Homo sapiens: one gene and its partners. The protein of the gene in region 3 purifies or fractionates together with the protein of the main gene of each other region. This does not show direct contact. Each region holds a gene or a part of one and is shown on either strand. Other genes may lie near its edges.

Evidence for each region.
Region 1: the proteins of SOX5 (region 3) and CPVL purify together in Homo sapiens (affinity purification with mass spectrometry; one large-scale study listed by BioGRID and IntAct). This does not show direct contact.
Region 2: the proteins of SOX5 (region 3) and SEC13 purify together in Homo sapiens (affinity purification with mass spectrometry; one large-scale study listed by BioGRID and IntAct). This does not show direct contact.
Region 4: the proteins of SOX5 (region 3) and RBM33 purify together in Homo sapiens (affinity purification with mass spectrometry; one large-scale study listed by BioGRID and IntAct). This does not show direct contact.
Region 5: the proteins of SOX5 (region 3) and SOX1 purify together in Homo sapiens (affinity purification with mass spectrometry; 2 studies listed by BioGRID and IntAct, with this or other methods). This does not show direct contact.
Region 6: the proteins of SOX5 (region 3) and RGPD8 purify together in Homo sapiens (affinity purification with mass spectrometry; one large-scale study listed by BioGRID and IntAct). This does not show direct contact.
Region 7: the proteins of SOX5 (region 3) and POLDIP3 purify together in Homo sapiens (affinity purification with mass spectrometry; one large-scale study listed by BioGRID and IntAct). This does not show direct contact.

The regions. Positions count from the first base shown.
Region 1 is NC_000007.14:29,069,703-29,073,870, forward strand, and holds part of CPVL (probable serine carboxypeptidase CPVL isoform b precursor), read right to left. Parts: intron 2,764-4,168; coding exon of another isoform or gene 2,722-2,763; coding exon 2,599-2,721; intron 2,203-2,598; coding exon 2,071-2,202; intron 1-2,070. UniProt on the Homo sapiens protein: May be involved in the digestion of phagocytosed particles in the lysosome, participation in an inflammatory protease cascade, and trimming of peptides for antigen presentation.
Region 2 is NC_000003.12:10,299,763-10,304,112, reverse strand, and holds the end of SEC13 (protein SEC13 homolog), read left to right. Parts: coding exon 1-87; intron 88-2,738; coding exon 2,739-2,852; 3' UTR 2,853-2,965; coding exon of another isoform or gene 2,966-3,007; 3' UTR 3,008-3,182; downstream 3,183-4,350. UniProt on the Homo sapiens protein: Functions as a component of the nuclear pore complex (NPC) and the COPII coat. At the endoplasmic reticulum, SEC13 is involved in the biogenesis of COPII-coated vesicles.
Region 3 is NC_000012.12:23,528,888-23,531,889, reverse strand, and holds the end of SOX5 (transcription factor SOX-5), read left to right. Parts: 3' UTR 1-2,386; downstream 2,387-3,002.
Region 4 is NC_000007.14:155,731,140-155,735,307, reverse strand, and holds part of RBM33 (RNA-binding protein 33), read right to left. Parts: intron 1-4,168. UniProt on the Homo sapiens protein: RNA reader protein, which recognizes and binds specific RNAs, thereby regulating RNA metabolic processes, such as mRNA export, mRNA stability and/or translation.
Region 5 is NC_000013.11:112,065,060-112,069,948, reverse strand, and holds the start of SOX1 (transcription factor SOX-1), read right to left. Parts: upstream 2,801-4,889; 5' UTR 2,291-2,800; coding exon 1,115-2,290; 3' UTR 1-1,114. UniProt on the Homo sapiens protein: Transcriptional activator. May function as a switch in neuronal development. Keeps neural cells undifferentiated by counteracting the activity of proneural proteins and suppresses neuronal differentiation.
Region 6 is NC_000002.12:112,426,974-112,431,141, forward strand, and holds part of RGPD8 (RANBP2-like and GRIP domain-containing protein 8), read right to left. Parts: intron 1-4,168.
Region 7 is NC_000022.11:42,604,697-42,608,864, forward strand, and holds part of POLDIP3 (polymerase delta-interacting protein 3), read right to left. Parts: exon of another isoform or gene 4,039-4,168; intron 1-4,038. UniProt on the Homo sapiens protein: Is involved in regulation of translation. Is preferentially associated with CBC-bound spliced mRNA-protein complexes during the pioneer round of mRNA translation. Contributes to enhanced translational efficiency of spliced over nonspliced mRNAs.

The DNA of each region.
Region 1 (4,168 bases), on a different chromosome or scaffold from region 3:
ATTTGTGTATCCTTCGGCAATTCATTGCTATCCCCTGGGGCTCGGCATCCTCTCCACTCACCAGTAAATGTGTGTGTGTGTGTGTGTGTGTGTGTGTGTGTGTGTGTGTGTGTGTGTGTGTGTGTGCATGTAAATGCATAGGGACAGTAGATGACCTATCTCCAGAGTACTCTCCAGCTCTGAGTTACTACTCTTTGATTAATTAAATCATTTTAAAGGATCAGAGCGTCAAACAGGCTTTATCATTTTAGGCTTGAGATTCTGACATTTATATTCCCCTGGGTTTCAGGATTTGTTGGAGTCTTCCTTTGCAGTCACTGAAACACATTTCAACCACAAGTTGTTTACTGTCCTAAGTATCATTTTATCTATTTTCCTTGAAAAAGCAAAGGTCTTGTTTTAATTCATCACTCAAGATACGGGACCAATGGTCAAAAAGACATTCCAAGCCTTCAAACGTTTTACCTGCTTGGGGTTCCGGTTTCTGACGTATCCGGTTTGGGAGAGATTCTCACCTCGTGGGTCATGTTCTCATTATCTCTGAATACACAACACACCTGAACTTTTCTACAGCTTCACTAATCCTGTAGGTGTTTAGCCTGCTGCATTATGTACCAGTCATCTTTCTGCTTTTTTTCTAAATATGGGCCTCTCAAATGCTCTTGCTCTTGACAATTGCTTTATCCTGTGTGCTTCTTTAAAAACATATCAAATGTTTCAATTGCAAATTGGTCTCATGCCACATAAAATTTGGTATTAATTCTAAATACTGAAGTTTCACTCCTTCGTCCCCTCTGTGACTACCACAGCAGAAAGCCTTGAAAATACTGTCATTGCAAGTGGAAGCATGATCCTACATGTGCCCCAGGAGACCCCTCTTCCTTTGTGTTTACAATTGCATAAGAAATTCTGAATCCACACTTTGCAGCCACATTTAGTGTCCTGACACAGAGAAAGGAGAGCCTGGTGGAGCTCTGTAGGATGGCTCAGGACTCCCTTTGCTCCATCCATTTGCACAGCTAGCTGCTATCAGAATTCACGGCAAGGGCGGTCACTGCCTTGGGGGATTTCTGATAGTGTCCCAACACCCTACTTGTAAAATGAAAAATAACTTTGTATTATCCTCTACCCTTTTCTCCAAGGTTGCATGTCTCCTATTTTGATCTGAACTGGCTGATCTGCAATGCCCTTAAGACTTAATATCAGATTTCTGCTTTAATAACAATAACGACATTAGATATACTGTTACAGAATATGTGTCTAATAACAAACAAATTAAAGCCCTCGAAATTCAGACCTTGCCTCATTTACTACCATGTCAAACATGATGGCTGTATAGTAAATACGGCAAAAAGCCCCTCAGGGAGATTGTTTACACATGGCTCTGTCTGCATTGGCAAAAAAAGCAAAAAAAAACAAAAAAAACCCAACTTCCTGTATCCTAATATTTAGTATATTCTTACATTTTAAATAACTGAGAAAGAAAAGAGTGAAGAACGTAATTATTGATTCTCAAGTTTAATTTTAGGGGAGCAATGAAAGGATATGCACAAATACCAATGGCCCTTTGTAAGAGTTTCAAATTACTACACTTTATAATCTTTGTTCCTGACACGTGTGTCACATGTCATCTGTTACACACTGTGGTCATTTCTCCCAGCTGAAACCCTGTTTGTGGATATAAAACTCTTCTACATGGTTTAGAGCAGATGGTGAAGCATATGCCTCTACTTCCTGGGTTGCCTTTCTTCTGATTTCCATATGATAGAGTCTGCCTTGAGGGCCTCCACAGCATTTAAAGAAATCAAAACGGTTAATGAAAGACACAGTTAGATAAACACTCCAAGATGATCTCAGGCTTAAAATATAGCCAAAGTAAATTCAAAGGAACACAGACAGTCCTTTTCTTCATTATGAGGCCACTCAACTCGCCTCCCGATCTCCAATGGAATAACAGATATACCTTCTTAACAAAAAAATGCCTGAGCACCAAGGTGTTCCTGCTCACCCGCCCTCCCTCCCCAGATGGTTTTAATTGCTCAAGGGCAGCACAGGGCCCCCAGAACTCACTTCAAAGGCCTCAAACCAGTTCTGCTTCCTGATGTGTTCTATGCATTCATGGCACTGCTTCTGGAAGTACTTTTTTTGCTTCTCATCCAACAAGCCAATTTGGTACAGGAATTCTGCATAGCCCCCTATAATCTGAGGACAAAAAAGACACACATCAATGTGACAAAGGGAGAGAAAGAGACCTTAAGGAAGCCCATTTGCTTGGTGAAATAATCCTTTGTAATTGTTAATATTGTGCTGGTTAGCCAAGTAGGATAATTACATGCACACACACATATACACCCCACAACACACACAACAGAACACAACACAATACAAACACACACACATTTGCACTGACAGCCAATGTAAGCTGACACAGTAAATTGATACGTTGAAACATTTGGTAAAAATTAGGAGATTTAAGTCATAAAGTCAACTGGTGTTTCCCTTATCAAAAGTTAGACCTCTAAGAGGAGCCTTCCATCTGATAAAAAGGCATTTAATCCCCCTAAGAGACAAAATAGAAAGTCAGAAGGAGAAACCTACTGATTCGGGATCAGAATATCCATCTCCAATAGCAATTCCGTTCAGGTTGATCTTCACCTCTCTCACAGGGTTGAGGGAATGGATGAGGTGTGCAATGGCTGGCACATATTTCCCTGCATAAGACTGAGAAGGACAGATGTTGAAATGGCCAATCACAAATGGATGCTAGTAAAATTAAATGTACTTAAGCTAATTAAAATAACAATGAAGGAGCAATCTTTCCACATGAGGTATACCATCTGTTTCTTAACCCCACATTATAGATTCCATAATAGCAAAAACCTCTGTCTTCCAATTCTTTTGTCGTCTCAAATAGCACCACATGACATGAACAGGTTCGATGCACAAAAAATCACAAGTGAACATGTAATAAGTGAACATTCTAATTTCCTTCCAAAATAAAATAACTTGGGAGAACACAATTCTGCCATGTGTTAGGCATCTCTTACCAGAAAGCTCTATTCAAAGATTAGAGGGAAAAAAATCTCAAGTTTAAAATTAAGATTTCAAAATCTGATAATGCTGCAAATTTTGAAATCAACATGTACTAAAGGAATAGGAGAAGCAGAAAAGGAAAATAATATTTATTGGCCACTAAAATTTTCACTTGAACTCATCTCTATTTCCAAACTTTTCCAGCACAAGGTCCTTTTTCAAGGTCAGAATATTTTGTAGATATATTTCCCCTAACAAACATGGTAACGGTTCTACTTTAAGACTGTGCTGGAAGAGCTACTATTGACTCAGCAGTATTTTTCAAATAATTTTGCATTTTGCATTCTTTCCATCAAAAGTTGCCTTCTTGATATCTCCACTTGTATGTCTAATATTAAACTGCACATGTTCAAAATAAAGCTCCCAATCCCCAACCCTGAGGCAGCCTCCCTTTCATCTCATGTTAATTCTGTTTCTCCCCTGCTCAGGCCAACAATCTTGGTGCCATTCGTTATATCTCTCTTTGTCTCGTATTCCACAGAAGTCAATCAGCCAAGCTTGTCAGCTCTACCTATTCTAACAAAATCTGTCCAGAGTCCAATGTCTTCTCACAACCCCTTCTCCATCACATCATCTCTGGCCTGGATGACTGCAGTAGACTCCTCATTGGCCTCCTTCTTTTGCCCTTATCCTTTAATGACTTCCCATCTTCCCAAAAGCAAAGGCATAAGGGCTGACATGATCTGCTCCCTTCTCTACCCTCAACCCCTGCCACCCTCTCGCTCATTCCTTTCCAGCCCATTGGGTTCCATGCTATTCCTTGCACATACCAGGCACATGTCTGCCAGGCCTTTGGACCAGCCATTCCCTCCACCTGGAATGCTCTTCTCACAGGCCCCCATATGGCAAATTCCCTCAATGTCCTATATTTTTTCTTTCCTAAGTATTTCCTTAATACTTATCATTCTCCAACAAACTTTTACTTACTTATCTTATATACTGTTATTCTCCTACCCATACTAGAATATAAGATCCGTGAATACAGGGACATTTGTCTGTTTTGTTTACTTGAGTCCACTATGACTGATGCGTATATTTGTTAGTGCTCAATAAATAGTTGTTGAATGAATGAATC
Region 2 (4,350 bases), on a different chromosome or scaffold from region 3:
TTGTTGCACAAGTTCAACGATGTGGTGTGGCATGTGAGCTGGTCCATCACAGCCAACATCCTGGCTGTCTCTGGTGGAGACAATAAGGTACATACCCATTCCCCGTGGCATGGTGGACACAGCCTGTTGGTCTTCACCCCGCCCACTAGAGAGGGCACTTGACATTCCCATCTGACTGCAGGCTGGGCAGGAGCCTTAGCCAGGACTGCGTTTTGAGTGTGCCTCTTAGTTACATCATTAATGTCACAGCCCCTGAGGTAGTATTAACACGTCCCCCTTTCACAGATGAGGAAAGAAGCTGACAGAGGCGATTTGACTTGCATGGGGGTCCCAAAACTATGAGGTGGCAGAGCCAGTCAGGCCCATCACCCTACTAAGCATTTGGTCACCTCATGGTGATGTTCAGTTAGCTGTGCCAAAAAGGCAAGTGTATAAGAACCCATAAACAGAAGAAGATTGGGGATATTTTTTGTCCATAACACTGAAAAGGCTTTTTAAAAACCTTTAGAGTTTATGAATACTTGTTATGCTGGTAAGAGGCAGGTACACAGTGGGTGCACTGGAAGAGTTTGCATTTTGCAGCTGAAAGAGTTCTGGAGACCAGCTGCTCAGGGACCCAAATGTACTTCACACAACTGGACTGTGCAGTTAAAAGTGGCCAAGGTCATTTTATGTGACGTGTATTTTACAATTAGAAGGAAAAAAGCTACCCGCAGAAAGGAAGCAGTAACAAGCCATAGCCATCTGCCCAGCTGAATTCCCCTATAAGACAGAGGATCTCTAACGCCGCAGGGTCAGTTCCACGTGGAGTGGCTGTGCTGCGTTTTCAGGCACATCTGCTCTGCGCCTGAAGTGCGAGTTGGTCTGGATCCTGCCAGCCCTTGCTGCTTCTCTCCCTTGCCTATGTTGGTCTTTTACTGTTTCCCAGTGGCCACTTTGGCTCCATGTCTTACCTTTCATTTGTGTGGCTCACGGCACAACCAACACAGGCAAGGCAGAGAAGCAGCTGGTCTCCAGAACTCTTTTCAGCTGCAAAATTGAAACTCTGTACCCATTAAATAACTCCCTTCCCCATTGCCCCTCCCCAGCCCTGGCAGCCACCCTTCTCCTTTCTGTCTATGTGAATGTGACTGCTCTAGCGACCTATCTAAGTGGAATCATACAGTATTTGTCCTTTTGCGACTATGTCACTAGCAGTATGCCCTTAAGGTTCCTCCATGCTGTACGTAGCATGTGTCAGAATTCCTTCCTTTGTAAAGCTAAGTAGTGTTGCATTGTATAGACAGCCCACACCCTGTTTCTACACTTATTCCTCCACCAAAGGGCACCTGGGCTGCTGCCACCTCTTAGCTATTGCGAATAGTGTGGCTGTGAACATGGGTGTGCAGATCTTGAGAGCCTCTGCAGGCGGCTTTTCTGGCCGAGGGTCCCTTTCATCTACAGTGGTCCCAGAAAGATCTAGCAGGCCCCCTCTCAAAGCCATATTTCTAGTGAGTGCCAGAGTCAGGACCAGAACCCAGGTTGATGGCACTCAGGGCAGACCAAGGGACCCAGATTGCCTCAAGCAGGCCCCCAGTGACTTTTTTACAAGGCTGTAAGCAAGTGCCTGGCTGTGCACGCAGTGTTGTGGGGCCCGTCACTGTGCATTTAGGCTTCTTGCTCTTCTTTACAAGCCTGTTTCCTTTCGCTGTCTCCATAGCACCCTTACCTAAAGGACTTAGTATGTTTTCAATCCCAGAGCATTCTGCAGTGTGTTGAGTGAATAGTTTGTCCCTAAAGCAAGAGTTCTTAAAATCAAAATCGTTATTTTCATTTTTAATCAAACTAATATATGTACATAGGTTTAGATTGTTTTTGTTTTTTGTTTTGTTTTTTGAGATCGAGTCTCGCTCTGTCGTCCAGGCTGGAGTGCAGTGGCGCAGTCTCGGCTCACTGCAACCTCCGCCTCCTGGGTTCAAGCGATTCTCCTGCCTCAGCCTCCCCAGTAGCTGGGAGATTACAGGTGGCTGCTAGTTTTTTTGTGTGTATTTTTAGTAGAGATGAGATGGGGTTTCACCAGTTCAGGCTGGTCGCGAACTCCTGGCCTCAGGTGATCCACCCATCTCAGCCTCCCAAAGTGCTGAGATTACAGGCGTGAGCCACCATGCCCGACCTAGACTGATTTTTTTTAATGCAGCCTCCTAATTTTCTCTCCAGGGGCAAACCTTTTCAGCTCTTAGCTATTTCTTATACAGTTTACTTCAGTGTAGAAACAACATATTGAACTGTTACCTTCCTCTACCACAGTAGTTTTCAAACTGCAGTGTTGTTAAACCTGTTAAAACAGATTGCCAGCCCCACCCCCAGAGCTTCCTAATCAGTTGTTCCAGGCCCCAAGAATCTGCAGTTGTAGCAAGCTCCCAGGTGACCGATGCTCTGCTCTGGTCTGGGGACCACACTTTGCGAACCCTGCTCCCCGCCACCCCATATCCTCTCGCTGTAGCTCTGTCACAGTTTGCTGAAAACAGTATCCTGTGTTGACATCATCATCCACAGCTGCTGTTATTGTTACTCCTTTTTTTCTGTGAGTTTTTATTCCTGGACTCTCATTTTGGTGAGATTTCAGTGGAGGAGGGACATGCTCTGTTCACCCACAAGCCTCTGGGCAGTGGTTCTTGATGAGGATGAGGCTCATATTTAGGGGACAGCAGAGGGAAGGGCACAGACCCGTGATAATCTGCTTGTGCACTGACTCGCAGGTGACCCTGTGGAAGGAGTCAGTTGATGGGCAGTGGGTGTGCATCAGTGATGTCAACAAGGGCCAGGGCTCCGTATCAGCATCAGTGACAGAGGGCCAGCAGAACGAGCAGTGACAAGACAGGTGGGGCCTGGCTCCCCACCCGCCAGCTCCAGGACTGCCCCTTCCTGGGCCAACTAACCAGACAACTGGGAAGAGCCCCCAACTCCAACAGGATTATTTTCCCAGGAGGAGTTACAGATGCAGCCACAGATTGATCATCTGCCTTAACGTGATCGGAGATGCTTTGTAATCTACTGTCCAGCTGAAAGCACTCATGTTACGAGGAAGAAACTACAAGTGATGTTCAAATCTATTTTGGGTCATTTTTATGTACCTTTGGGTTCAGGCATTATTTGGGGGGTTTTGTTTCCAAAGGAACTAAATAAAGTCATATTGCTTATAATTCCTGCTGCGTTATCCTAACCACCCCACCCCACCAGCTCAGTTTGACTCTTGTCGGTCCACGCACTAGAACAAACTATTCACAAAGGCCACGGCTGTGATGGCCTGGCTTAACCCCACGCACAAAGGTGGCTTGTCACTGCATGAGCATCTCTGATTCAGTTTATACTGAAAGCACCATACAGAGCACTGGACTCAGCCTTTGGTGACAAGGACTGTAGCCCTGGGTCTGCTACTTACCCTCTCGGTACACATCCTGTTCTGCAGAATGGGACTAATACAGTCTGCCCTACAGGATGGCTGCAAGATTCAAACACGCTAGTGCATCTGGTGACCTACAAAATGCCACGCAGGTGCAACGTGGTATTAACCAAACACCAATAGTTAAGATGCTGGCCCAGAAAGTGGGCACGATTCATTTAGTTTATTGACCCTGTCAGGAAAAGGAGGGCCCCATGATGGGAGACCTAACTGACCCTGAACCAGGTATCACCTTTCAGCGGAGGCCCTGTGACCCTGACAATCGCCATAGCCATCAGTGAGCCTGCGGTGAGCCAGACCCTACACTGGATCTTTCACACATTCGCTAATTTAAGCAACACGAGAACCCCGTGTGGGTGTACCCAGTTCACTGATGAGGAAGCGCTCAGAAGGTAGAAGCCCTGCCCAGGACTGTGCAAACGTAAAGCCAGCGTCAGGGCCTGGCCCATCTCAACAGTTACTCCCCACTGTAGAATCAGGGTGGGAGCTGGGGGGCTCTCCTCAGCTGTAATACAAGGATGTTTCTCACACCAAACCTTTGTATGAATAGATTCAGATAAAAGGTCAGCCCACTTGCCTCAGGCCCCCTAGTCTGCCTACTTCTTGTCCTTCCCTCCTTTTTCAGCAGCAAAATCCCCTTTAAAAAAAAAAAAAAATCTTTGATCATACTATGTAACATAGAAGAAAGTGAAACTGCTTTGGTTAAAGGTGAGGACAGAGAGGCCATGGCCTGGCCCAGTCAGCCTCCAGTCAGTCCACAAAGCCCAAGCCTTCTGAGACCAACATGAAAACAGCTGCTTCCTTCCTTCCCTTACTCAGAAAAGCAAAGCCCAGGAAGGCACCTTCACGTGCACTACTGAGTGTCGAGTTCTACAGTGAATCCTTGAACCATATCCACGTCTGCCTCC
Region 3 (3,002 bases):
CACAATTTTACTTCTCTTTCCGTAAGTTTTCTCTTTTTTAAGAATTTTGGCCCCAACAATATCAGTTCTGATGTTTAAAACAAAGGAGTGAATTAATAGGAGGGTCGTGTTCAATCTTAATTAACTTATGCTCTCATCACTCATTTTAGTTATTTAATTGCCACAGTCATCTAGAGCCAATTTTTTTTTGTTTTTGTTTGTTTTGTTTTTAAGCACTCTGGATAAGGAAAAAATAGACACTTGTTTTTATATCATTTTTATGTACAATGTGAAAACAGATTTTTAAAAAATTTGTTCTCTGTCTTTGTTAACAAATTCCTTCCGATTTATGTGGGTTCACCTCTCACGTTTGCTGGATACTTACTTTACACCATGTTATGAAAGATGCTTTGTTTTCATTTCATGAGTTTGGGCTACAAGAATACTTTGTTTTAGCTCCAGGTAGATGCCATTGAAGGCATTCATGGCTGAAATCAATTCTAACACACTTACCGATGAATTGACAACACTTTGGTGTTTGGTCTTTTTTTTGTTATATTTTGTTTTATTTGAAGGGGAAAACAAAATTGTTAATGGTGACTTTTAACTGCTGAAATTCAAAATTTGATTTTAGTTAGGTTTATGTCCGAGACTAAACTGTGCATGAACCGAAACAAAAAGCAAGTTCATACCGCTGCATTCTGTTCTCTTGTTCTGACGGTTAATTCACTGGACATCAAATTTTCTTTGCCCTAGTTTTCCCCAAAAGAAAACAAAAGCAAAAATAGTTATATTAATGTTGAAAGTGCTTTGAAGTCACTTGATAAAAGGTGCTATGAATAGCAACTTACTGTGTTACTACATTGCCTTTTTGGCATTGGTTGATTTATAATTTTGGTAAAGGATCCTAAAACCCTGTATTCTTTTTCTGTGCCCCATAATGACCAAAAAAGATAAAGAAAATGAGAGTAAGATCAAAAGATCAAACTAAAACATAAACAGTCTCCTTCCTGTCTGCTTTCTTACCTATCTGTTCACACTTTATCTCTTTCCCTTTCTCTCTCTCTCTCACATGCGCGCGCGCGCGCGCGCACACACACACACACACACACTTGCCCCAACACTGAGAAATAATCTTGCCAGAATTCTGGTTTTTATAGTTGTTGTAGTCCGTTTCTCTAAAAATAGTCCTGTTTTCATATGAATCTAAGAGAACATTACCGGAGAAAATAAAGTTACTCATTTATAGTTACTAATAATAAGTTAGTGATTAACTTACCACAATTGGATAAAATATAAAACTATTCTTCAGCACATTTATACCTAAATTAGTGAAGTCCATTTGTGAAGTTCATTTGGCATCTGCAGTTAAGAGTTAACCATGTATAAAATCCCTCCCAAAGAACATAATCATCGTTAGAACCAAATCCTCTTATAAAGAACAAATATAAAAAAGTTTTCTGTGGTGAAGCTATTTTATAGATTTGATTTCCGGAGTAGAATTTTACCTTAATTCACTTAAAGAAAATTAACCATTTTTTGGTCCAACTTCAGATATTTTCTTAATCCAGAAGCTGTGACTGTTCCCAGAAGAAACCTCTTATATCACATTTAAAACATAAAAAATAATTACACTTTCACTCATTCTAATGGGTAAATTGTTGAATTGTAATAAACAACTGTATATTTACAAACAGGTTTATAAGGTATTTGTCTATCAAATTAATAATAAAATAAAACTTACGGGGTCTGCAAGGAAAACTATGAAGGCCACTTAAAGTGGTTCAGGTATCCCTTTGTCTTGTAGGGCATAGCTGTTGGTTTAGCCAGGCTTTTACAGTATTTAATTTTAAAGTATCCTATAACTATCAACTTCCCAGGTTGAAGACGATGTGTTGAGTTTCCTACTGATTGATTGATTCCTGTCCTCCCCAGTGTTTCCGTCACTGGTTCACTAAAACAGTATTTATATAGCTCCACTGGCTCTAAAGCTCTTAGTCCTTCTAATATTTTGGATTTTACAAGTAAAAATGGAAAAAAAATAGAAAAGAGACAATCAAATGCCTGGAGCTTAAAACAAAGTATGTGCAACCTACCATCTCACTTGAAATTTAATAAAATAATAAGTAATTATGTAAATATAACATAGAGTTATAGATTTATATTTTGTTCATAACACATAGTGTAATATAAGTTGTATATTTTCATGTTTTTGGTTTTATGTTATCATTCATGCCACAATAAAAATAAAACAGGAGTTTATGTGCTCTTAAAAAAAAGATGTGGGTTGCCACCAACCTGTTTTTCGTTTTTGTTTTTTGTTTATTTTATTTTATTTTTTTGCATTCTCCTTTTTCAGTATTACTGCCATGCAAGGCACCAATAAAAACAGCAAATGTGTTCTTTACTTATTATACTGTGTTTCTTTTCACAATTATTGTTATGAGGGTGTAATTAGTTTTATTATGAAAAGAACAAAAGTATGGAAATTTAATTTTGTTTTTAATATAAATAATCCCTCTTATTGAAGTTGACTTTAAGAACTAAAGGTTTAATTTTTAGCTGTGGACATTCCCAGAAAGACAGTCAGGACTTGATATAATGCATTTCACTCAGACAGATCTAGCTTCACCATACTGTCAAAAGATACTGTTCTTATATGTAATTGATTCAACACAATTGAAAACCCAACAGTCTAAAGCACCTTTAATATTGTTGTTTTCCCTGGCTGGACACTATCCTTGGGTGGGGGATGGGGGGTTTCTATGCTTTAGAATTGTGCTTTATCCTTTCGTTTGTATAGAAGATTTATAAATTTCAGATCATGAAATTACTAAGAACTATGAATAATTTTCACCTCGCTGGTATCTCATTTTGAATAATGGATATTTCTGAATTGTTTAACATTAGCCTCTCAGTTCTACCTTAAACTTTTTTAGTGAATGTTAAAAACAAGAAGTCTCCTTTCCTTTCAATGGCCATTTTTGCTTGTCTCTTCCACCATAATATGTTTTTCTACCTTG
Region 4 (4,168 bases), on a different chromosome or scaffold from region 3:
TGAGCTTGCCTGCTTTCTCCCACTGCCAAAGTTTTTTCCTCTTGTTTTAAAAATATTTTCATCTCTTGTTTGAAGTCAATGAAACACATGGTGTGAACATGAATATATCTCCTCCAAAATAATATTGTATTCCTCCAGGTAACTTAAATGTTCTATTTATAAAGTATAGCATTAGCATTCCATCTTTAGTTTTGTATATCAATATGATTCTGACATATACAGACAGTTCCTGACTTACAATGGTCCAACTTACGATGTTTGCAACTTACAGCGGCCTCATCCTAATGTAACCCCATCGTAAGTTGCAGAGTAGCTGTGCAAGCATTTCAAAACGTTTTAAAATAATCTTCAAAACTTTCTGAATGACAATAAATTAGCAATCAAGGTTCTGCATTATTTCAAAAAAATGTTTAAATGATGCTTCTCAGAATGACACGGAATAAAAGAAACAACTGCCTGCCTCTGCTTGCAGAGAGGTTTGACTGATCACACTGTTTCCAACCCACGCAAATTGGCAATGGTGGTTCTGAATAAAAATCCTTTTCCAATTAATCAGCCTGTTTCCTTAAGCTGTTTCAATGCACACTTGACTACACTTATTTCGGGGGAGGAGGCACACGGGAGGGGTTTCAAACAGATACATACAAAAGGAACCAGTAAGATTCATTAGAAGAATTTGCATTGAGAAATGAAAAACATAGGGATCAAAATGATGTCACTGAGACACCAAAAAGAGACAATATCACAGCCTGAAACAAGATAATAGTTGTGAAAAGTAAAAATCACTCAAATGCAAACTCTTCAAATGAAAAATGGGTATGACATTTTAGCTTACAAATACAAAATTAATAACACCTCTGGAAACTATGAAAAACCATTTCCAACGTTAAGTGTGGTTATGATAGCTCTCTTCATGTAACTGAGTCAAGATCAACCACAAGCAGGTTTGATGATGGTTTGCCCAACCACCTAGGTAAGAGTTTGGATGGGGCTGATTTCAATTCAACAGAGGGAGGAGGTTTCTAACACTCTCCCAGCAATGAACACATCCTCAACCCACAGAAGCACGCACTCAGGAGGAGGAGCACCGCCTGCCGGGGATGATCTCAAAAGTGAACTGGACTAGCGCATCCTCAAGGTCCAAGCCAACTCACAAAGAGTGGGTCTGTCGATGTTCTTGAAATTACAGACCAGTTGAAAGACAAACTGGTAAATCTGGCTGGCACTAGTGCAGCCAGGCACGCACTGGGCGTGAGGTGACAGCAGGACTGGGTCACGGAGAAGGAGCCCCGAGGAACAGCTGGCATGAGGTGTGGGCCTGTCTGCCAAGTCTGGAACCTGGGAGGTGCTCACAAAGAGACTGACAGAATTAAATGTTCATTTTCTCACTTTTCTGGTAGGTCTTGATGCCTAGTGGGAACCAGATTAGAAGACTTAAGAACAAAGTCTCAGCATGGGTTAGAGTTGGGGAAGTGGGTTCTAAATCAAGGCTCACGGTCTAGGTGACAAAACAGGAAGGTACTAGCAATGTGAACGGCCATTCTTTCTACTTGCCAGGACTCACAGACTTTTATAGCTGAGCAAGCGCTCCTTCACACTCCCTACCGTACAGTGACTGACAACTGCAGGGATTCTTGCAGAACTTAAGGGCCAGTCAAGAACCAATGCTTTCTAAGCAGCCACCTTAAAATGAGGACCAAAGGGAACTCAGGCCCCTGGTCCACTGGCAGAGTCCAGGAATTCCTGGGTATGACACTGTCACCACTGTCGATACCAGGGCCCCATGAACTCATCAACACACAGTGAGGAAGCTAAAACTTATGACATTAAATCACTGGTCCAAGGTCACAACCCTATTTTAGTATTTTTATTTTTCTGTAAGTTCACTCAACCACATCAGGGATTTCAATATTCAAGAAAACCAAGTTAAAGCTTCTGCAAGGGTTCATTTTATTCACGACATAATAAAAACGCAGTGGGGGGAGTTTCAACCCATATAATAAGAAATCTTATCAAAATTACTAAATTTGGGTTACAACTTTTCCCTGACTTAGACATAAAAATGGTAGTGTACCCCCAAGTCAGAATGTGGAACCTGGACACTTGTCACATTACATACACACTTTCCCTTTCCATCTCCGGTATTTCCTTGAAAAATTTTCACTCTTACATTTCTGTCTCAGCCAAAATGCAAAATCACTACAGAAAACGGCTTCTCTTGTAACCCTTGGTACAGAACCTTTACCTCCTCCTGACCCTGCTTCACTCTCTGGCCACCTCCCTGTATCAGGAGACGCCTGACACAGGGCCCAGACATACCCAAGCCTCTGACTCCTCTACCCCTGTGGCCAGGCTCCTGAAGGCTGGAACACGAAGAATCCCATGAACTGGAATCACTAAAAGCTTTTGTTTTATTTTAACTGGCTCATCAGTGTCAATCAGCAGTTTTTCACCTGTCCCTGGGCAGCTCCTTCTCTCACTGCCCAGGATAACTTCACACCTCTGAGCACCTTCTAGTGATTCCACCACACAGCTGTCCCCTCTGCCTGCAAGGCCCTCGGCATCCTTGCCGCACTTCCTTCCCCCTCTTCTCTGCTTCCACCTGCATCTAAACATCACTTTCTACCACGAGTAATGGACTTGCTGCTAATTTTTACCAACAGTCTATTTGTTAAAAATATATATAAATTCTCACTATTATACATTTGGTCAGATTTTTCATTTAAATATAGGAACAGTATGCTGAAGTAGGACAGAAGGTGAAAGTCGGCTACGGATGGGCTGACAAGCCGTCAGCCCCAACCATAGTCAGCACACTTCAGGGCTCGCAACTCATCAGCTCTATCAGTCACTACTATGCTAATGAGCTGGCTTAAAAAAGCAGATATTGGGAGGTGCCAGAGAGAAAAGGAAGAGTAAAATGTACTTTTAGAGAAAGGGGGAGAGTCCTCTGAGGCTATTTCCACTTAACCCTTAAACTTTTTTATTGTATTAACAGCCGGAAATCAGCATCACTGGGTGTGAAAATTTTTTTATCAATTTACAATTATTTTGCCAATTTTAACAAAGAGTAAAGCAAAGCTTAATGTATCAGTTATTCAGAATGACAGGTAATTACACACTGCCACTCTCTCCTATCCCGGCTCAGTTTCCCCTTCACCCCTTTCCAGTGTGCCAGTTTCAAGTGTGCAGTTGCAGGGTACACTGTTCCCACAGGACCAACCAGCAGTAGGCAGGCTCCTCCCCAGGTGCAGAAAGAAGGGCTGCTTCTGTAGCTGGCCTTTTGTCACTCAGTTCTCATGCCAGGGAAGTGCCAGTTCTCTTTAAATTTTGCCTATAATTAGAACAAGCTAAAAGAGGTCCTGATCTTTCCATCTTCATTATTTAATAGGTGAAGCCCTAATATTTATTACTCCTTTTCTTACTGGGCTTAGAACTGAAAAACTCCATTTCTTAGAAAATTCTGTAGTTCTTCTAAGTTCCATGATTGTATCTTACTGCCATGAATCTCATCCTCAATAGTACAGAGGTCCTCACTTATCCACAGTTTCACTTTCTGGGGTTGAGTTACCCACCATCAATTGAAATCTGAAAATATTAAATGGAAAATTCCAGAAATAAACAATTCATAAGTTTTACACCATACACCTTTCTGAGTAGCATGATGAAATCTCTTGGCATCCTGCTCCGTCCAGCCCGGGGAATGAAATCATACCTTTGTCCAGAGGATCCATGCTGAAGACACTCCCTGCCTGCTAGCCCATTAGTCACTTGGTCAACGTCTTGGTTATTAGATTGACTGTCACAGTACTGCAGAGCTTGCATTCAAGTAACTCATATTTTACTTAATAATGGCCCCAAAATGCAAGAGTAATAACTGTTTTATTGTATGATTAGCTATTGCTGTTCATCTCTTATTGTGCCTAATTTGTAAATTAAACTTTATCCTAGGTATATATGTACAGGAAAAACCATGGTCTCTACTGGGGGTCTTCCAGTACACGCCCCTCGGATAAGGTGGGCACCACAGCACTGGCCATGCGGCTGCTGCAGCAGGACTCTTTATAAACCTTCTTTCCTACCTTCCATCAGGCAGCTAATTTCAAGTCCTCAAAAAGATTTTTCTCATTATAGATAAGGCAAAATGTAACTGGGAAAGTAGACTGGC
Region 5 (4,889 bases), on a different chromosome or scaffold from region 3:
CCAGCCAGGTGGAAGGCGCCCCGCTTGCAGCAAGGTAACGCGCAGCAGCCCCAGCCGTCCGCAGTGAAACAGCCGGAGCAGAAGATACTTTTATTTCTCGGCCCGTATTAACACTCAGCTCTACAAAATAACCTATAGGTTTTAACTTCCTTCTCTTTCATTGAAAAAGGTTCCTTGAAAAATCCTGTCCTCCCATTCCCCGGGGTTCCCTTACTTTTAGTTCATACAGATAATTTCCCTGTCAGATTTCCTCATTGCATTTTGAACTCATAAAACATGCACATAAAAATAGCATGTTACAAATTTATGGAGAAAATGGGCTCTGTCTCTTAAATTTGTTGACTCGAAACATTTTGGGTGGGGGGTCTTTTTTCGTTTTTAGAAGAAAGGCTTTTTAGAAAACTATGTACATAATCTGACTTCTCCTCCCCGCATTGCAACGCCGAAAATAAAATTTTTCACAATGCATTTACAAGAAATAATACAAAACCCAAAAAAAAAAATGGAAATGCTCAGATACATAAAGTTTTACAAAACCCAGAATATAACTCCGCCGTCTGAAGGAGGGGGTGGTGGTGGTAATCTCTTTGTATAAATTAACAAACCAACCCAAAAGAGCGGTAACAACTACAAAAAACTTGTAAGTGCTTGGACCTGCCTTACTACATTTATAACAAATGCGACGAGCTCCGCGTCACTTGGGCTCCGGCGGTCGGCGCCGTCCGGAAGCAACGCGGAGGAAAGTGAGCGCGCCGGCCGGTATACAAAAGTGGGCTTCGCCTCTCGCCTCGTTTTGACTTTTTTGTCCCCTCGAGCAAAGAAAACGCTTTCCGCTTCCTCCGTAGGTGATAAATACTGTACAAAAAGTCTCAAGAAAACACCGAAGTTCAGTCTAAAACCCAAGTCTGGTGTCAGCGCCCGGCGGTCGCCAGGGTCTCCGGGGAAGGTGAGTGGGGGACACGCGTCACCCGGCGTTCGTCTCCAGTATTTTCCTTTTGACAAGAATGTGGGAACGTCTGTACAAAAGCCACGCCGCGCCGGGGCGGGGCGGGAGCCGGGCGCGGGCCGCGAGCTCGTGGGTCGCCGCCGCAGAGTCCCCGGCGTCCCGAAGGCGCTAGATGTGCGTCAGGGGCACCGTGCCGTTCACGCCCGCGCCCGCGCCCTGGTAGTGCTGCGGCAGCGAGTGCAGCCGGCTCTGCGCCGCGGCCGCTGCTGCCGCCGCCGGGTCGCCCCCCTCGCCGGCGGGCAAGTACATGCTGATCATCTCGCGCAGGTCCCCGGGGCACGGCGCCCGCGAGTGCGCTGGGGCGGGCGGGCTGCCGCTGGGCTCCGACTTCACCAGAGAGCCCAGCGCGCCCAGGGCGCCCGACGACGCGGCCGCCGCCGCCGCCGCCGCCGCCACGGCCGAGTTCTGGTGCGCGCCGCCCGCAGCGGCGGCGGCGGCGGCCGCGGCGCCGTAGGGGAGGCCGCCGTAGCCCGAGGGCGACGCGCTCATGTAGCCCTGCGAGTTGGAGATGGGGCTGTACTGCAGCGCGCCCATGTCGTAGCGGTGCATGGGCTGCGGGTTGTGCGGGTGCGCGTGCGGGTGGTGCGGGTGCGGGTGCGCGGGGTGCGCGTGCGGGTGCGCGCCGCCCGCGCCCGGGTGCTGCCCGTAGGCCAGCTGCGCCTCCTGCATCATGGCCGCGGCCGCCGCCGCCGCCGCCACCGAGCCGGGGTAGGCGCCGTTGGCCCAGCCGTTGACGTGCGCGTAGCCGCCGCCCGCCGCGCCGCCTGGGCTCTCCAGGCGCTGGCCCACGGCCGCCGCGCCCACGCCCACGCCCACGCCCATGGCCACAGCCGCGCCGCCGCCACCCGCGCCGGCCGCCAGGAGCCCGCCGGCCAGCGAGTACTTGTCCTTCTTGAGCAGCGTCTTGGTCTTGCGGCGCGGCCGGTACTTGTAATCCGGGTGCTCCTTCATGTGCAGCGCGCGCAGCCGCTTGGCCTCGTCGATGAACGGCCGCTTCTCGGCCTCGGACATGACCTTCCACTCGGCCCCCAGGCGCTTGCTGATCTCCGAGTTGTGCATCTTGGGGTTCTCCTGGGCCATCTTGCGCCGCTGCCCGCGGGACCACACCATGAAGGCGTTCATGGGCCGTTTGACCCGGTCCTGGTTGGCCTTGGCGCCCCCGCCGCCGCCGCCGCCCCCGCCTCCGCCCCCGCCGCCGCCCGCCCCGGCGGGGCCCGAGAGGTTCGTGGGGGCCTGGGCGCCGCCGGGCGAGTGCAGGTCGGTCTCCATCATCATGCTGTACATCGGGGCGGCTGGCGGGTTCACCGGCACCGCGAGGAGAGGGCCTGGAGCATAGACGGCCGGGGTGGGAGGGAGACGGAGAGGAATTCAGACGGAGTGAGACGGGGGCGGGGGGGTCCTAGCGGAGAGAAGAATGGGGAGGGGTGGAGGCAACGACAACAAAAAAAGGCAGAAACACACGCACTCGGCGCCGGTTCGGCTCGCAGGTGGAAAGTTTCTCCTGATGCACAAACCACTTGCCAAAGAGGCCGACGGTCGGGGTCGCCGTCTTCGCCGCCACCGCAGCCCAGGCGCCCTCGGCGGAGCGGTGCAAACAGGTGCAGTCGTGGCCAAGTTGCAGCTCCGCTTTTGGGGCCGGGAGCGGTGCGCTGGGCCCGGCCCGGGGTGTGCTGTCTCCTCGCCGGCCGCCGCTGCGCGCTGTCTCCTTCCTCCTGCGCTCGGTCCTCAGCGGCCTCCAACTCGGAGGCTGCAACTTCTAGCAGGGCGGCGCGCCGCGTGCGCTGGGCATGTGCTGGTCCCAGGTGCCCGGGGGAAGCCAGGCGCCAGTGGCGGGGGGGGGGAGGCGCAGGGGGGCCTGCAGGGGGCGATTACGGTGCAGCCAGGGAGGGGCCCGGGGACAGCGGGAGGAGCGCGGGCTCGCGGAGAGGGCCGGAGAGCCGGGGCCGCCGAGCCCGGGATGGGCTGCCCGCTGCCTGCCCGGGGCCGTGCGCTCGGAGCGGAGGCGCACGCGGGGCCGGCGGCGCGCGGGGCCCAGCAGCCATACGCCGGGCCCGGGCTGCCATTAAATGAGCGCGCCGCGGCCAATGGGAGCCGGCGGCGGCGGTGATTTGCATGGCGCGCTGGCGAGTGACGTGGGGAGGGAGTAGATACACTGGGCGCGGGCGGCGGAGCGGGGAGGAGGGGAGGAAGGAGGGGGAGCAAAGCAGGAAGGAGGGGGGAGGAGGCCCGGGAGGGGGTGACAGCCACACCGCTTCCTGAGCGCGCGCGCGCGGCGGCGGCGGCGGCGGCGAACCCCGAGCTCGCCCTCCTCGCCGCTCCCCGCCCGCGCGTTCCGAATGATTAACGATTGGGTTGAAAAGCGAAGACTAAGAAAGGATCGTCGTGGGGTGGGGGGAGGAAACGCAGCCCCTGGCCAGGTTTAAACGGGCGCAGTGGAGACCCAGCTCCTCCTCTGCCCCCGCCGGCCAACTCTGTGCCTGCAGGGAAGGGGAAAGTTGAGTGCGGGGCTGGCACGTCGCCCTCAGTTCCCCCGAGTGCTGAAAAGGAGGGGCGCTCCCTTGGACGCAGGGGATACCCTCCGAGGGCCCCTGCAGGTTCTCTGCAAGGATCAGGCGGCTCAGCCATCCCCCGCCCTGCATCCGTTCTCGGCCGCGGCGTGCACTGAAGTTCGCCAGTGCCCGCTCTTGCAGCGAAGGCCTTCACAGTCCAGGCCCCACAATTCGGGTAAAGGGGGAGTATTTGTGTGGGCATGGCTCCATAGCTTCGTTTAGTATCAGCCCTAAACTTTTGTGGGGAGGAGTCTTTCAATGAGCCCGGGGCCATAGTCACGCACTCTTCCCAACCCGGATCTTCTTCCTCTGGAAAAGGAATTTCTAGGAAGGCCGAACACAACAAGATCTATCTGGAATCTAGTTCCTGAACAACAGTTGAAAAAGTTTGTTGAATCGCAAAATAATGATATGGCGCACGCTTTTCTGGAGTGAATTTCCCACGAGCTGGTTGCCTAAGAACGGAGAAAACTGCGTGAACTGCGCGGGGCCACATAAACCGAATGAAAGGCGGGGCCTCAGGACGGGTCTCAGCCGCCGGTCTGCGTCATGCAAAGGAAAGGCCTGGCTCGTGGAAAGAGTAAGGCATTCACCTGTGGTTATCATTCTTAAACCTCAAAGTGGCTTTGATTTGGGAACGTGAAAGAGATTTTCAAACGCAGTCTCAAGTAGCATAGCGCTCACACTACCGTTTCCACCAGACTGATCTGAAAGTGGTCCAAAGACGACTTTTGAGCCCAAGTATTCCTCCTCTGCCCTCCCCGAGGCACCCTGAGATGAGAGTGCTTGTGGAGATTGGTGGTGGGTAAAGTAGAACCTTCACCGCATGTCACATGTCTGCCTGTCTTGTAGTAGGAATATTCAGTAAAGATGATGATAACGGTAATAGGAGTAATAGGATGTTTGAGTCTGTTGGGCAGCGAACACGTGACACCTTTTTTTTCCTCTTAAAAAAACTTCTGAGGTTGTGAATTTCTTGACCCTGTTGCTTGTCCAAGGTAAAAGAATAATGCTTTATTTCCTCTCAATTGCTATGATTATTACTGTAGGGTTTGTTTTATTATTGCAGGGTTGCTACAGTGTGAAGTGCAACAGCAAATTGATCTCTCTGCAGATTAAACTGCTTTCATTCCAGGCCATTCAGCATTTACTAGTAAATCCATCAAGTAATATATAATTATATTAGAAAGGGAACATCATTTTATATTTATTTTTTCACTAAATATCTAGGTTATAAACTGGGCTTCCAACTACCTTCTTATTTCACCAGTCGAGTTTGTTAAATCTTTTGATTTGTTACATGCACTACCTACAAATATCAGTTACATTGTGAA
Region 6 (4,168 bases), on a different chromosome or scaffold from region 3:
TTCAGTAGAGATGGGGTTTCACCATGTTGGCCAAGATGGTGTCGATCTCTCGACCTTGTGATCTGACTTCTTCCGCCTCCCAAAGTGCTGGGATTACAGGCATCAGCCACCGAGCCCGGCCAGTTCCCCCTTTTCAAAATGAAGAAATAGATTCAAGGTACAATGCCAAAACATAATAGAAAAATAATTCCATTACCTTCTTTGCTTCCAACTATGTTAAAACATAATAGAAAAATAATTCCATTACCTTCTTTGCTTCCAACTATGTTATTAAAGTAGACAATCTTAAGATAATTAAACAACTTTACAAATTATTCTTCTATATGATCTTTTGCCTCTAACCTGCTCACTTTACAAGGGAACTGAAGCTCAAGCAGACAAATGCCTTGTTTAAAGATATACAGCTAGAAAGGAGCACAGCCCATGTTATGTAAACAGGACAATATCTGATGCAAGCAGTACTTCTTTACATGACAGCAGATGTCACTATAAGCAAATACCTGAATTCACTTAAGCTGCCAAATATCAAGAACTGATGCAGGGCTGAAAACAGGAACAGTAAGACCCTAAGAGATGCCACATCATCGCTATCTTGCACAGTAAGATAGAGATGTAATTGTAATTGTCCAAAACTTAATATTTGTGGCCTACTTTTTCATTATGCAGTTCTAAATTTCTCTCTTTTTTTTTTAATTCAAACGGAGTCTCACCCTGTCGCCCATCTTGCACAGTCAAATGAATCTCCCTCCCCCTAAAATCCTCCAAAAAAGCTGCTGTTCTCAACAAACCCATCTGATCAGCTCCAAATCTGTGGAGTCCCAACAAGGGTGAAGGCCGTGATTATACAGGACAATGAGGAAAAGTCTAGATACTGAACCATGAGTTCCCCAATCTTCTTCCCCTGGAACATAAGGGTAAGGAAATCTCTCAAAAGGCAGAACAAACAAAAGAGGAGAATAAGAGAAAAATTAGAGAAACTCCAGCTTTCAGGTAAACATCATTAAAAAAAAGGGTAAGAAATGGTCAAAGAAATAATACAAGAAATGCTACAGAACTGAAAGAAATGAGTTTCCCAATTGAAAGGACACTTCCAGAAAACCTTTAAGTTACCAAGAACAAGAATCTCATGGGACTCCTAACAACAGAACTTCTAGAAAATGGAGCAATGCTTTCAAAATTGCAAAAAAAATTATTTGAAACTCAGAATTCGATAACCAAATGATCAACTAAATTAAGTAAAGATGTTTTAAAGACATACCATTAGTTTCTAGACCAGCCTGACCAGTATGGTGAAATCCCATCTCTACTAAAAATAGAAAAAATTAGCCGGGCATGGTGGCGCACACCTGTAATCCCGCTACTCGGGAGGCTGAGGCAGGAGAATCACTTGAACCTGGGAGGCGGAGGTTGCGGTGAGCTGAGACCATGCCACTGCACTCCAGCCTGGGCAACAGAGCAAGACTCTGTCCCATAACAAAAACAAACAAAAAAACCTCTCATCCACTTTTCCTCAAAGCAAGTGAGACTATGCTACACCAAAACAAAGAAAGTAAATGAAGAGGACATGAGATACAAGAAACAAAGGGTCTAACTCAGAAAAAAGATGAAGGGAATTCTCAAACTGGTGATAAAGGGAAGTCCCAAGAGCACAGCTGTGTAGCAAAGAGGAAGAAAAACCAATCCGGGTTGGAGAAGTTGGTTAGTAAGGGTATTCCAGGTAGACAGACAATCAATCAATCAATCAATGTTTTAAGCTGAAATTGATGGGATTATGTGACCAGTTTGACCACATTTGAGGGTTTAAATTGCTGAGTTTAAGTAAGCAAGTAGTAACACAACATACAAGCAAACCAAAAAATAAAGCAATTATTCAGTCCAGGAAAACGTGGGTGCAGCACACCAGCATGGCACATGTATACATATGTAACTAACCTGCACAATGTGCACATGTACCCTAAAACTTAAAGTATAATAAAAAAAACAACAAAAAACTGCACAACAAGGGCAATTCAAATGCAAAAATATTTACCTTCTATTTATATAAATGTTAACTATTCATTTAAACAAAAACTGCAGTAACAGTACTGAAAGAATGAGGGGCAAACCAAAGTGTCTGAGGACAGTTTTGGAGGAGCATAATAGCCAGTACAGAATGTCTAAAATGGGGCCGGGCGCGGTGGCTCACGCCTGTAATCCCAGCACTTTGGGAGGCTGAGGCGGGCGGATCATGAGGTCAGGAGATTGAGACTATCCTGGCTAACACGGTGAAACTCCGTCTCTACTAAAAATGCTAAAAAATTAGCCGAGTGTTGTGGCGGGTGCCTGTAGTCCCAGCTACAGGCTGGGGCAGGAGAATGGCGTGAACCCCGGAGGCAGAGTTTGCAGTGAGCCGAGATCGCGACACTGCACTCCAGCCTGGACGATAGAGCCAGACTCCGTCTCAAAAAAAAAAAAAAAAAAAAAAGAAAAGAAAAGAAAATGTCTAAAATGGGAGAAAGGGAATTAAAAATAACAAAAGTATATATGTGTGTTACTCAGAAGTATGAAGTATAGATGTAAAGGGCAGAAAAAACAACTAACAGCTGTCAAAGGTGCCTGCCTGTAGTCCTAAGTACTCAGGAAACAGAGGTAGGAGGATCATTTACGCCCAAAAATTTGATGAGCAACACAGCAAGACCCTATTCTAAAAAACAAATAAATAAAAATAAGAGCTGTCAAGTAGACTTTGAGAAGTAGGAATCAGCTGCAGAATAAGAAATCGACTTGACAGAACATAGAAAAACTAAACAGAAGCCATCGGGAAAAAGAAAAACTAGAGAAAGAATTATATTTTTTTCCTTTTTTCTTTTTTGGAGACAGAGTCTCGCTCTGTCACACAGGCTGGAGTGCAGTGGCGCAATCTCTGCTCACCACAACCTCTGCCTCCAGGGTTCAAGCAATTCTCCTGTCTCAGCCTACCGAGTAGGTGGGACTACAGGCGCTGCCACCACGCCCGGCTCATTTTTGTATTTTTAATAGAGACAGATTTTCACCATATTGGTCAGGCTGGTCTCTCGGCCTCCCAAAGTGCTCGGATTACAGACGAAGAATATTTTTAAGAAGGGCAAAAGCACATGTGAGGGAGTAGAAAAATGGCAAAACAAGAGAAGACTAACAAATGAAAGCACAATGGAAGACTAGAAAGATATGATATACAGACGCATCATCACACACCAAAACTCCGACATTCTAGAAGGCATGGGCAGTTCACAGATGGCCAGCCTCTGCCAAACTGGGGGAGAATACTAACCTCTTCATATTCTTCACAGCCACTGCCTCTTCTCCCTCCATTCTTTACCTTCTATCCAAAGCACCCTGTTTTGTCATTTCACTCAAACCTAACTTTACAGAATAGCTTCACATGTTCCAGTTACTCACTAGTTAATCCATATTCCGCTGAAATCCCCAGGTTCTAATGTAAATGACTTTAAATTTGGGGGGGAAAAAAAGACTCTAAGTGTAAGAGAGGTGGTCATAATAACCAATCGTCAAAATGTTGCTACCACTCCACTTTATTTAATGGAGAAGTTATGTAGTTGAAAGAACATTCTGACTTCTGTCTAGACCAGTGGTTTTTAATCTTTTGGAAGCCAAGGTCCCCACTAAGAATCTCAGAAAGGCTCTAAGGTTGCTTTTTTTTTTTTTTAAGCTTGTTTAAAAAAAAAATCAGGCTGAGCAGAGTGGCTCACACCTGTAATCTCAGCACTTGGGGCCAAGGCGGGAGGATCACTTGAGCCCAGGAGTTGGAGACCAGCCTGGGTAACATGGTAAGACCCCGTCTCTACATTAAAGAAAAAAGCCGGGCATGGTGGCGCATGCCTGTAGTCTCAGCTACCCAGGAGGCTAAGGTGGGAGGACGGATTGAGCCCAGGACGTCAACGCTGCAGTGAGCCACGATCCCGCCACAGCACTCCAGCCTGGGAGACAGAAAGAGACCTTGTCTCAAAAACAAAATAATGGCCGGTGCAGTGGCTCACGCCTATAATCCCAACACTTTGGGAAGTGGAGGCGGGGAAATCACTTGAGCCCAGGAGTTCAAGAACAGCCTGGGCAACATGGTGAAACCCAGTCTCTACCAAAAATACAAAACAAAACAAAACAGCGGGTGTGGTGGGTACACCTGTGGTCC
Region 7 (4,168 bases), on a different chromosome or scaffold from region 3:
CCAAAGGTGAGTCTACCTGGTACCAATAAAAGCAAACGTGGACCTTCATCTTGTTATCCCTCAAATAATGGAAAAACACCTGCTGCCTCCAATATGCCAGTACCAAACCTAAGGCGGTAATACAGACTGAACATCTGTGTCCCCCCAAAATTCCTCTGTTGAAGCCTAATCTGCAATGTGATGGTGGTAGAAGGTGGTGGCCTTTGGGAAGTGATTAAGTCATGAGGACAGAGACTTCACAAATGGGATTAGTGCCCTTTATAAGGAAGAAGCCCCAGAAAGCTCCTTGGCCCCTTCCACCATGTCAGGACTCAGCAAAAAGACCATCTACAACCAGGAAGCAGGCAGGCCCTCATCAGACATGGAATCTGCCAGCATCCTGATCCTGGACTTCCCAGACTCTCTGTGACAAGGAAGTTTCTTTTCTTCAGTTTTGTTTTGTTTTGTTTGAGATGGAGTCTTGCTCTGTCATCCAGGCTGGAGTGCAGTGGCGCAATCTTGGCTCACCGCAAGCTCCGCCTCCCGGGTTCATGCCATTCTCCTGCGCCAGCCTCCCAAGTAGCTGGGACTACAGGCGCCCGCCACCACGGCCGGCTAATTTTTTGCATTTTTAGTAAAGATGGGGTTTCACCGTGTTAGCCAGGATGCTGTCGATCTCCTGACCTCGTGATCCGCCTGCCTTGGCCTCCAAAGCGTTACGATTACAGGCGTGAGCCACTGCGCCCGGCAGTTTCTGTTTTTTATAAGTTACCCAGCTTAGGGTATTTTCTTATAGTAGCCTAAACGGACTAAAACAGGCAGTGATGCATGCTATCATTTTTCTCTTTGGAGTGGCAAATTCAGATTTAAAGATTTTCCAGTGGGTTCTGGGTAGAAGGGTCATTTATACAATTAATCAGATAAGGCTTAAGGTTTACTTGGCCATTCCTGTCCTATTTTTTTAATGTGAGGACTCTGGGAGATGGAGGCACTAGAGAAAGCAGGGCCAAAGGAAGGGAGTGTTCAGGGGGTCGGCATGCACGATTAGAAAGAAATGGTTGTATGTGGTAGATGGCATCCACCCTCCCTAGGACTGGGCTACCCTAGGCTTCGTGTTCCATGGCCTACAAAGCCATAGACAAACTGGGACTATGCTTTGGGGTGACCTCAGAAACTTGCAGCTAGGCCAGGCACAGTGACTCACACCTGTAATCCCAGCACTTTGGGAGGCCGAGGCTGATGGATTACTTGAGGTGAGGTGTTCAAGACCTGCCTGGCCAACATGGTGAAACCCCGTCCCTACTAAAAATACAAAAATTAGCCAGACGTGGTGGCACGCGCCTATAATCCTAGCTACTCGGAAGGCTGAGGCAGGAGAATCAGTTGAACCCAGGAGATGGAGGTTACAGCAAGCCAAGATCACACCACTGCACTCCAGCCTGGGCGACAGAGCAAGACTCTGTTTCAAAAAAAATAAAGGACATGATCAATGAAAACTTCTGAGTATTACTCACTACAGGTTGACAATTTTTCACACAGACTTTTTTTTTTTTTTAAGAAACAAGGCTGGGCACAGTGGCTCATGCCTGTAATCTCAGCACTTTGGGAGGCCAAATGGCAGGATGGCTTGAGCCCAGGAGATCGAGAACAGCACGGGCAACATAGCGAGACTCCCTGGGCATGGTGGCTCACACCATGTAATCTCAGCACTTTGGAAAGCTGAGGCAGGAGGATGGCTTGAGCCCAGGAGTTCAGGACCAGCCTGGGCAATATAGTGAGACTCCATCTCTATAAAAATGAAAGCAGAAAATTATCTGGGCATGGCAGCATGAGTCTACTCCACAGGCTGAAGCAGGAAGACCACCTGAGCCCCAGACTGCAATGTTGCCGTGAGCCAGGATCGAGATACTGTCCTCCAGGCTGGACAACAGAGCAAGACCCTGTCTCAAAAACATATTTTAAAAAATTTAAAAGGACAGAATCTCATTCTGCTGCTCAGGATGGAGTGCAGTGATCATAGCTCACTACAGCCTTGACCTCCTGCCTCAGCCTTCTAAGTATGGAGCCACCATGCCCAGCTTTAGACGTCCTTTAAATGTTACAACCCCGTGAATCAGGTTATTGTTCACATCTTATAAATGAGGAAACTCAGAACCAAGGAGATTAACTATCCCAAGAGCTACTAAGGGGTGAGGAATGGACTTGAACTTCACTGTACCTGGTTCAAGCATCAATTAAATAAGCATGGGTCAAGAGTAAACAGCAGAGCTGGAAGAGTTAAGAAAAAAACTTCTAAAAAATAAAAAACACCAGGAGCAGTAGCTCATGCCTGTAATCCCAACACTTTGGGAGGCCAAGGCGGGCAGATCGCTTGAGCCCAGGTGTTCGAAACCAGCCTGGGCAACATGGCAAAACCCTGTCTCTACAAAAGATACAAAAAAAATTCCCTCCCCCTCCCCCTCTCCCCAGTTTCCCTCTGATGCCGAGCCGAGGCTGGACTGTACTGCCGCCATCTCGGCTCACTGCAGCCTCCCTGCCTGATTCTCCTGCCTCAGCCTGCCGAGTGCCTGGGATTGCAGGCGCGCACCGCCATGCCTGACTGGTTTTTGTATTTTTTGGTGGAGACGGGGTTTCGCTGTGTTGGCCGGGCTGGTCTCCAGCTCCCGACCGCAAGTGATCTGCCTGCCTCGGCCTCCCGAGGTGCCGGGATTGCAGACGGAGTCTCGCTCAATCAGTGCTCGTTGCCCAGGCTGGAATGCAGTGGAGTGATCTCGGCTCGCTACAACCTCCACCTCCCAGCCGCCTGCCTTGGCCTCCCAAAGTGCCGAGATTGCAGCCTCTGCCCGGCTGCCACCCCGTCTGGGAAGTGAGGAGCGTCTCTGCCTGGCCGCCCATCGTCTGGGATGTGAGGAGCCCCTCTGCCCGGCCGTCCAGTCTGGGAAGTGAGGAGCGCCTCTTCCCGGCCGCCATCCCATCTAGGAAGTGAGGAGCGTCTCGGCCCGGCCGTCCATCGTCTGAGATGTGGGGAGAGCCTCTGCCCCGCTGCCCCGTCTGGGATGTGAGGAGCGCCTCTGCCCGGCCGCGACCCCATCTGGGAACTGAGGAGTGTCTCTGCCCGACCGCCACCCCGTCTGGGAGGTGAGGAGCTTCTCTGCCCGGCCACCCCGTCTGGGAAGTGAGGAGCCCCTCCGCCCAGCAGCCGCCCCGTCTGGGAAGTGAGGAGCGTCTCCGCCCGGCAGCCGCCCCGTCTGGGAGGGAGGTGGGGGGCAGCCCCCGCACAGCCAGCCGCCCTGTTCGGGAGGTGGGGGGCGCCTCCACCCAGCCACCACCCCGTCTGGGAAGTGAGGAGCCCCTCTGCCCGGCCGCCACCCCGTCTGGGAGGTGTACCCAACAGCTCATTGAGAACGGGCCATGAAGACGATGGCGGTTTTGTCGAATAGAAAAGGGGGAAATGTGGGGAAAAGAGAGATCAGATTGTTACTGTGTCTGTGTAGAAAGAAGTAGACGTGGGAGACTTCATTTTGTTCTGTACTAAGAAAAATTCTTCTGCCTTGGGATGCTGTTAATCTATAACCTTACCCCCCCCCCCAAAAAAAAATTAGCTGCAAGTGATGATGCACATCTGTAGTCCCAGCTACTCAGAAGGCCAAGGCAGGAGGATCAACTAAGCCCAGGAGGTCCAGGCTGCAGTGAGCCAAGATCACACCACTGGACTCCAGCCTGGGAGACAGAACAAGACCCTGTCTCAAAAATCAAAACAAAACAAAACAAAAAAAAACCACCACCACCAAAACAAAAAGAAACAATCTTCCTTATCATTATTGTCTGGTATTTCAGTTTCAATATGTTGTTAAACCCTTAAAAATTTATACATATATATAAAGGAAGGATAAACAGTCCGCAGGCTGAAGAAATCTTAGGACTCCGGTCATGCCCAGGGATACGGAGCACTCTCTAGCGACCAAAGGGTGAGCACAAGCAGCGAGGCGAGCGGGTGGTGCACGCACTGAGAACTCGCATACCACAATGCCTGCCTGGCAGGAAGGACCACCAAGATGCTTTGTGCTGGCATTTTTATCTATTTGAACAGCCTAAAAGGCACATTTAGGGGTGGGAGTTAACGGTAGTTGAGGATGTAGTAGGAGCTCCTCACGGTGGGAGGGAGTAAGCTATTTCCCTCAATCTGATG